Linked DNA regions of Homo sapiens. The protein of the gene in region 1 purifies or fractionates together with the protein of each later gene. This does not show direct contact. Each region holds a gene or a part of one and is shown in the gene's direction. Other genes may lie near its edges. The genes, in order: PTER and ABCE1.

Region 1 (3,831 bases):
TTTACACATATATGTATATATTCGTATGTATCTTCCATTGCCTGCATGACAGGCATAGGGTGTCAGCTCATTCTTTGCAAAAGATCACTTACTCTCTGGAGTATTTTGTATTTCAAAATTTTTTCTGCATTATTTTCCAACCAGGACTTTATTTTTTTAATGTATTTTTGTTGTTTAAAGACTATGCTGATGATGAGGATTATATATTCTTCCAACCACTTTTAGTGGTAACTATACATATGAACCCAAAAGTCTAATAGTAGTATAGTGTGCTGTGAATTTTCTATGCTGTCTATGATAAAAGACTGGAATAAATAGGAGAGAATTAAAGCATTTCTTGATGCCTTGTGCGGTGATGCAAGCGTGTAGTCCTAGCTACATGGGAGCCTGAAATGGGAGGTTCACTTGATCTCAGGAGTTCCAAGTCCAGCCTGAGTAACATGGTGAGACCTCTGCTTCTTTAAAAAAAACAAAGAAGAAAGAAAAAGAATGACTTGATACACGGGACATAGATTCAATTCATTGGCGGTCTTTCTATATTCTAGATGCTGCTCCCCAGGTTAAGTTACAGATTTTTTTTTGCTTCATCCTGAATGTACTCTCATTAAGTCACTTTGTCCCCCTCCAGCTTCCTAAAGCTATAAATTTCTTGTTAAATAATCATGGTATGATATTATCGAATCTTGGATTTAGTGCAACTTGTTGATTTTTGATTTGGCCAGCAAAATGCCTTTTTCCTTGGCCAATATTAATTGATAAATACTGAATACATTTTTAAAAGAATGAATGACAAAATAAATAAATTCATTCACATACTGTGGTGGATCTATTTTGATAAATTTCACAACCTATAAAATATATTCCTTCTCACTCTTCCTTAGCTTACCGATGTCCTTATGAATGAAATTCTCCATGGAGCTGATGGAACCAGTATCAAGTGTGGCATTATTGGAGAAATTGGTTGCTCCTGGCCTTTGACTGAGAGTGAAAGAAAGGTTCTCCAGGCCACAGCTCATGCCCAGGCTCAGCTTGGTTGTCCTGTTATTATCCATCCTGGACGGAGCTCCAGGGCACCATTTCAGATTATCCGAATATTGCAAGAAGCAGGCGCAGACATCTCCAAAACAGTCATGTCACACCTGGATAGGTAAGTAGGCTGTCTTACAAATGGATGCAAACTGCCATATAATTAATGCATGATCAAATTAAGAATCTACAGTAATCAGTCAATGCAATACTAATCACGCAGAGAAAACCACTAACTATATGGAAGGTAGTATTTATAAAGTTTCACAACTGACATGAATAAAAGTCAATGCTGCCATTTTTGTGTCCCTCCTCTGTGTCAGATAGTGTCCTAGGTATTTCACATAAGATATTTCGCATAAGTCATTTCCTTTAATTTACTCAATCCTTTATAACTCATAACAGGTGTCACTGTCTACTTCATTTCTTTGTCTCATGGGATGCTATCAAAGTAGCTGCCAATTCCACTTGCTCAATGTTTACCAGTAGTTGGAGTAATAAAGTTATCACACATATAAAGGGAGGGAATGTCAATGGTTTCACCCAGAGAAGAAAACCGCAAATATAAATGTTCACATTTGTGTCACTTGTGGTTTGAATCATCTGAATTTTGGAAAATGCAATTATAAAAAATAATAGTAATAAGTATAGCATGTGTTGGGTAGTATCATGCATTAGTTTCCTATTGCTACTGTAACAAGTTATCACAAACTGGGTGCCCCTAAACAACAGAAATTTAGTCTCTCAAAGTTCTGGAGGCCAGAAGTCTGAAATGAAACTTTGTCAGGGCCCCGCTTCCTCCAAAGGCTGCAGGGAGAATCTTTCCTTGCTTCTTCCATAGCCTCAGATCCAGCTGTTCCATGGTTTGTGGCTGCATAACTACAGTTTTTGCCTCTGTCTTCGCATAGCCTTTTCCTCACTGTCTATGTCTTCTCCTCTGTTTGTTACAACCACAGTTGCCATTGGATTTATGGCCCGTCCAGATAATCCAGAATAATCTCATCTCAGATCATTTACTTAATTATATCTGCAGACCTTTTCCCCAAATAATGTCACTTTCAGAGGTTCCAAGAGTTAGAATATGGACCTATCTTGTTGGGGTTCACCATTTAATCCCTACATATTATTTTAGATGCATAGGGGACAGTAAAATGAATGACTAAATGAAGAAATGCCAGCTGCTGTTAATTTTATGAACAAGTCTAACTGTTGCTAAGGCTACTCATTAGCCTTCAGTTGAATTTATTATAGAATTAATACAGCACCAGTGAGACTAATAATATATTATAGTTACTTCTATCTTGCCTATTGGAGTAAAGCCATATTAACATATTGATAAATCCTGATTATCAGACCAGACAGATTGCTATTTCATAAACTAACAGTCCTGCAAAATGTATTGATAAAATGCCTCTCCTTATGAGGCTGCAGTGAACCATGACCACTACACTCCAGCCTAGGCAACAGAGCAAGACCCTGTCTCAAGAAAAAAAAAATTCTTTTACTTAATAAAAAATACTGTGAAATCATGTGCAGGAAATATAAACAAGTTGTAGTTATAGCAGAACAGAGAAGTCAGTATTAATGGGGAAACTGAGGCATAATAGGATAAAGGTAATTCTCCTGGCAACCAGGTTGGTATCAAGATCCATACTTGGCTATCTTGAGGAATCTTCTGGTTGCACTGATAAAGTAGAGGCATGCTTCTATATACTGGTCACAGAGACAATGCATCAGACTGTGAAAACTAGACTCTTTGGACCCAGTGAGAACTTTGAATTCTAACTCTCATTGGTGTAACATCTTGGACAGCTTAATTTGAATTTAAAACAATGTATTTTATAATGTTGCCTTGTATGATATGGGATATATGTAGCACATTTACTGAGTAAGGATGATACTTTTTAAACATTGTGAAGTACCTCATACCTTCAAAAATGTATTACACTAATACTTTTAAATTTTATAAAATGTTTTAGATTCTTAAAAGCGTTGCATTCTGCAGTTATTATACAGTGTAATTGTTCTATATGTCTATTAGAACATAATCATTTATCATGTTCAAGTATTCTGCATTTCTACTAATTTAAATATATATATATATATGGAGAGAGAGAGAGAGAGAGAGAGAGTCTGTCTCTCTGTTGCCCAGGCTGGAGTGCAGTGGCATGATTTTGGCTCACTGCAGCCTCACCCTCCCAAGTTCAAGTGATCCTCCAACCTCAGCCTCCCAAGAAGCTGGGACTACAGGCATGTGCCTCCACACCTGGCTAATTTTTATATTTTTTGTAGAGATAGGTTCTTGCCCTGTTGCCGAGGCTGGTCTCAAACTCCTGAGCTCAAGCAAGTCACTCGTCTTGGCCTCTCAAAGTTCTGGGACTATAGGCATATGCCATTGTACCTGGTCATAAATTTCTTTTAATTGCGTGCTTGGCATTCCTTGGGATTCCTGAATGTAAGGATGTACCTTTCATTGTTTCTGAAAAGCCTCAGCCATTATCTCTTTAAATACTGTTTCACTCACATGTTATTTATCATCTGTATCACAAACTCCAATTTGATATATGTAGGGCTTTCTTACCTATACTCTGTATTTCTTAACACCTCTTTCATATTTCCATCCACGTGCATCACTGAGCTATAATTTCTTCAGTTTGATCTTCCTATTTACTACTTCTCTTTCCAACGGAATCAATCTGTCACTTAGCCAATATATTTGGTTTATAATGTTGAGAACTACATGGTTTTTCTGTTACCTATTAAGTTCTAGTTGGTTACTTTTCAAATCTGCTTGGTTAATTTTGA
Region 2 (3,831 bases), on another chromosome or scaffold:
CGGCAGTCATTCTTCACAACTCCAGTTATAAATGTCATGTCTAAAGGCTGTGCCATTCAGTAAATGGTACCCAGTAAGGTTTTTAATGTGCTCGATCTATTAAAACAGCTTAAGAAACTTTAGTTTTTCTCTGTTCCTTTAATATATTGAAATCAGTGCAGCATACTTAAAAGCTTTCTATAAACTGTAAAGGTGATTATGGTTTGAACTCATTTTTAAATTGACAAGACAAACATTGAAGTAGGACTGTAAAGACTGACTTGCTGTGTTTTTTTTAAACGAAGTCACTTAGTTCTTTGAGCCTTTATTTTCCAAAATAAGTTAGGTATTTGAACCAAGTGGCTGCTAAGGTTCCTTTGAGTTTATGTTTTTATGTAATTGTTTTTATTTAATTTTTTAACTTCACATTTATAGGTTTTAGATAGTTTAAGATCAAAAAACATGCTGATTTTGGCAAAATAAATGTAATCTGTTCATTTGTTCTGTCAGCAAAGATGTATTGAACACCTGTGTTCTAGGATGAGGATACAGGCTGCATGATGTGTCTCTCAGTTCCAAATAAAATGAATAACGTCAAGACCTTCCAAGAAACTTCAGCTTTCTCTTCACTTAAATATAGGAAACACTGAAATATGGATTATTCATTGTTTCTCAAATACGCTTTTCATTTCAGTGTGTCTGCCATTGTAGATCTTAAAATTTTATTACAGAGGGTTCTTGTATACAATGTGGATTTAAGTTATTAAAATCTGTTTAGATAATGGTTGTTATCTTTGTACAGTGAAGCCATTAAAAAAATGTTAACTGGAATTAGCTCATATTCAATTTCATATGAACCTGCAGGATTAATTTTTTTAAAGCAATAAATTATAACCTCAAAATATGTGCTTATGTCTCATATGAAATTAAATATTGATAACATTGTATATTAAAAAATTTATCCCCCAAACTTTTATATCAATATTACATCAATCTGAAAATACTCTTACATATTTGTCATTTTCGCTTTAAAGATAAAGCAAAAAGGACATCATGTGCTCTCTTTTGCATAAAACCTGATGGAAAAAGTAATTACAGGATAATGAGAAGATGTACTTCATGTGGTTGGGGGGGACATGCATATATATTCATGAATTATTTAAACTTACATTAAATATATATAGTTTTTTAAGTTACTTCTTTATATGCAGACCAACATGTTAGCAAAAATCCACAGAAATTTAAAGTATATAGTCTATAGATTGCTCCCAAGAGAGCTTAGGATTTTGGCTCTAATGATTTCTCCCGGTTGACAATTTTCTTCCCAACAGGCATAAACATTTTTTTGGATGGCTATGTTCCAACAGAAAACTTGAGATTCAGAGATGCATCACTTGTTTTTAAAGTGGCTGAGACAGCAAATGAAGAAGAAGTTAAAAAGATGTGTATGTATAAATATCCAGGAATGAAGAAAAAAATGGGAGAATTTGAGCTAGCAATTGTAGCTGGAGAGTTTACAGATTCTGAAATTATGGTGATGCTGGGGGAAAATGGTAAGTTTTCTGTTTTGTGATAAGTAAAAATCTTCCTGTTTATCTAGTAAATTAGTTTTAACTGTTTTGTGGAAAAATTTGAATCATATGTTATAGGGCTAGAAGCAGAGTTTTATTTAAACCCACAAATTTCTTAGTGTACTTTCACATTTTTTTGGCATTGTGTAATTCAATTTCACTGTAATTCAATCAGGTTAATAGTTCTTATTTTGTTTTATAACCTCTAGTGAAAATAAGGTGTTCTTTGTCAGCTGGTTTTTTACATGTAAATTGATAAGGCAGTTATTAATCTTATAAATTGACTAAGATGGAAAGGATAAATGGTGATTCAGAAATAATCCAGCTTTAAAAATTTTTTCCTCATACACTTCAATGTGGAACTTTTCTTATTTTAAATTCAGAGCAATCTACCTTTGTAAATAATTGTATTACCAGCATATATTTCATAATAAATTGTCATAAGTGTAGATATAAGATGAATTTGACTACTAAATATGTGATATTGCCTTCATGATTTAAGAACTATTTGAATTGTAATCTTACAGCTTACAAAACTATAGAAGATAAATTTTATATAAAGATTGTTACAATGTATCAGTCTTTAGATAATGGGAATTTTGAATTGGGTTGCAATTAATTTAAATATTTTATATAAGTAAACTTTAAAATTACAGTTATCTTTCATAAAACAGTCTATACTGTCTTAATAAATTGTGTGCCCTGATAATTTAGCTAAGTAGATCTTTTCAAACTATTGCAGGATTTAAACTTTATAGACATACCATTTATTAAAATTGTCATAAGCTTTGACTAGTCTTTATTCCTCTTAATTACCTTAGAATGACACTTCAGAGGTGAGCCATGAAAGACTTAAGTATTTTTCTATATAAACTTCAGAATTCAATAATGTCAGTGTATATCTTTAAAACAAATTTCTCAGTTAAAACCAAATAGGACATAGTGATTTACTTTAAACGTCAAGCATCTTTCAGATCAAACTGTCATATGTTGTGTTGCCAGGAACGGGTAAAACGACATTTATCAGAATGCTTGCTGGAAGACTTAAACCTGATGAAGGAGGTACATTTGTAACTGTTGAGTCTTTTTACTCTGTTTTACACAGTAAACTTTAAAGATCTGGGCAGTTTTTAGTGTCTTATGTATTTCATTATTTTGCAGGAGAAGTACCAGTTCTAAATGTCAGTTATAAGCCACAGAAAATTAGTCCCAAATCAACTGTGAGTTATTATTTTTTATATGGTTACTAAAGAAAATTTTGTATATATGCCTATAGCTTTCATCTTTTACTATATTAAAATTTTTCTCCAAATTAGATTCTATACAGTTTTATTGATAGTTGCAAACAAATGTATTAAGAGTCCAATCCTTGATTCATATCCACTGCTAAGAAAGTGCTTTAAAGATATTTGTCATCTTTGGCCGGGTGCAGTAGCTCACGCCTGTAATGCCAACACTTCGGGAGGCCTAGGCCAGCAGATCACGAGGTCAGGAGATCGAGACCATCCTGGCTAACATGGTGAAACCCTGTCTCTACTAAAACTACAAAAAACTAGCCGAGCGTGGTGGCAGCGCCTGTAGTCCCAGCTACTCAGGAGGCTGAGGCAGGAGAATGGCGTGAACCTGGGAGGCAGAGCTTGCAGTGAGTGGAGATTGCATCACTACACTCTAGCCTGGGCGACAAAGCGAGAGTCTGTCTCAAAAAAAAATAAAAAAATAAAGATGTTTGTCATCTTTTTGCTAAATAAATAATTAAAAACCTAATGTATTTTGTGCTGCAAATTGACAACAGCAAGAAGGTGAAAAGGCTTTACCCACAAGATGGGAGAAACATTTGCACATCATATATCCAATAAAGGACTTGTATCCAGCATGTATAAAGAACTCTTATAATTAAAAATGAGCAAATGTCTTTTAGTTATTCAGCCATAAAAAGAAATGAAATATTAACAAATGCCACAGTCCTTGAAACCATTCTGTTAAAGTTAACCTCCTTTGATTTCTGCGGGTGTTGTAATGAACTCCTCAGTACCTCAACATTCAATTTATGTTTTGTCTACTTGGCTTAGCTTACCATAAAAGTTTTGTCATTGATGCTCTCTATAAGCTTAGCTTTAAATTCTAAAATTCAGCCTTATCCTGAAACAGCAAGGAAAAGCCATCTTAGGATTCATCCCTAGCACATTATCATGCATTTTGTGTTCTCTTACTGATTGCCTAAGGTTGCTTGATACCCACTTTGACCTTTGGAATTTCTACTCTTAAATGATTTTTCCTCTGA

Evidence for each region.
Region 2: the proteins of PTER (region 1) and ABCE1 fractionate together in Homo sapiens (co-fractionation; one large-scale study listed by BioGRID). This does not show direct contact.

What each region holds. Positions count from the first base shown.
Region 1 is NC_000010.11:16,485,471-16,489,301, forward strand, and holds part of PTER (N-acetyltaurine hydrolase), read left to right. Parts: intron 1-881; coding exon 882-1,147; intron 1,148-3,831. UniProt on the Homo sapiens protein: N-acetyltaurine hydrolase that regulates feeding by catalyzing the hydrolysis of N-acetyltaurine into taurine and acetate. N-acetyltaurine has anorexigenic and anti-obesity effects that are dependent on GFRAL receptor and GDF15.
Region 2 is NC_000004.12:145,118,622-145,122,452, forward strand, and holds part of ABCE1 (ATP-binding cassette sub-family E member 1), read left to right. Parts: intron 1-1,310; coding exon 1,311-1,532; intron 1,533-2,552; coding exon 2,553-2,612; intron 2,613-2,711; coding exon 2,712-2,770; intron 2,771-3,831. UniProt on the Homo sapiens protein: Nucleoside-triphosphatase (NTPase) involved in ribosome recycling by mediating ribosome disassembly. Able to hydrolyze ATP, GTP, UTP and CTP. Splits ribosomes into free 60S subunits and tRNA- and mRNA-bound 40S subunits.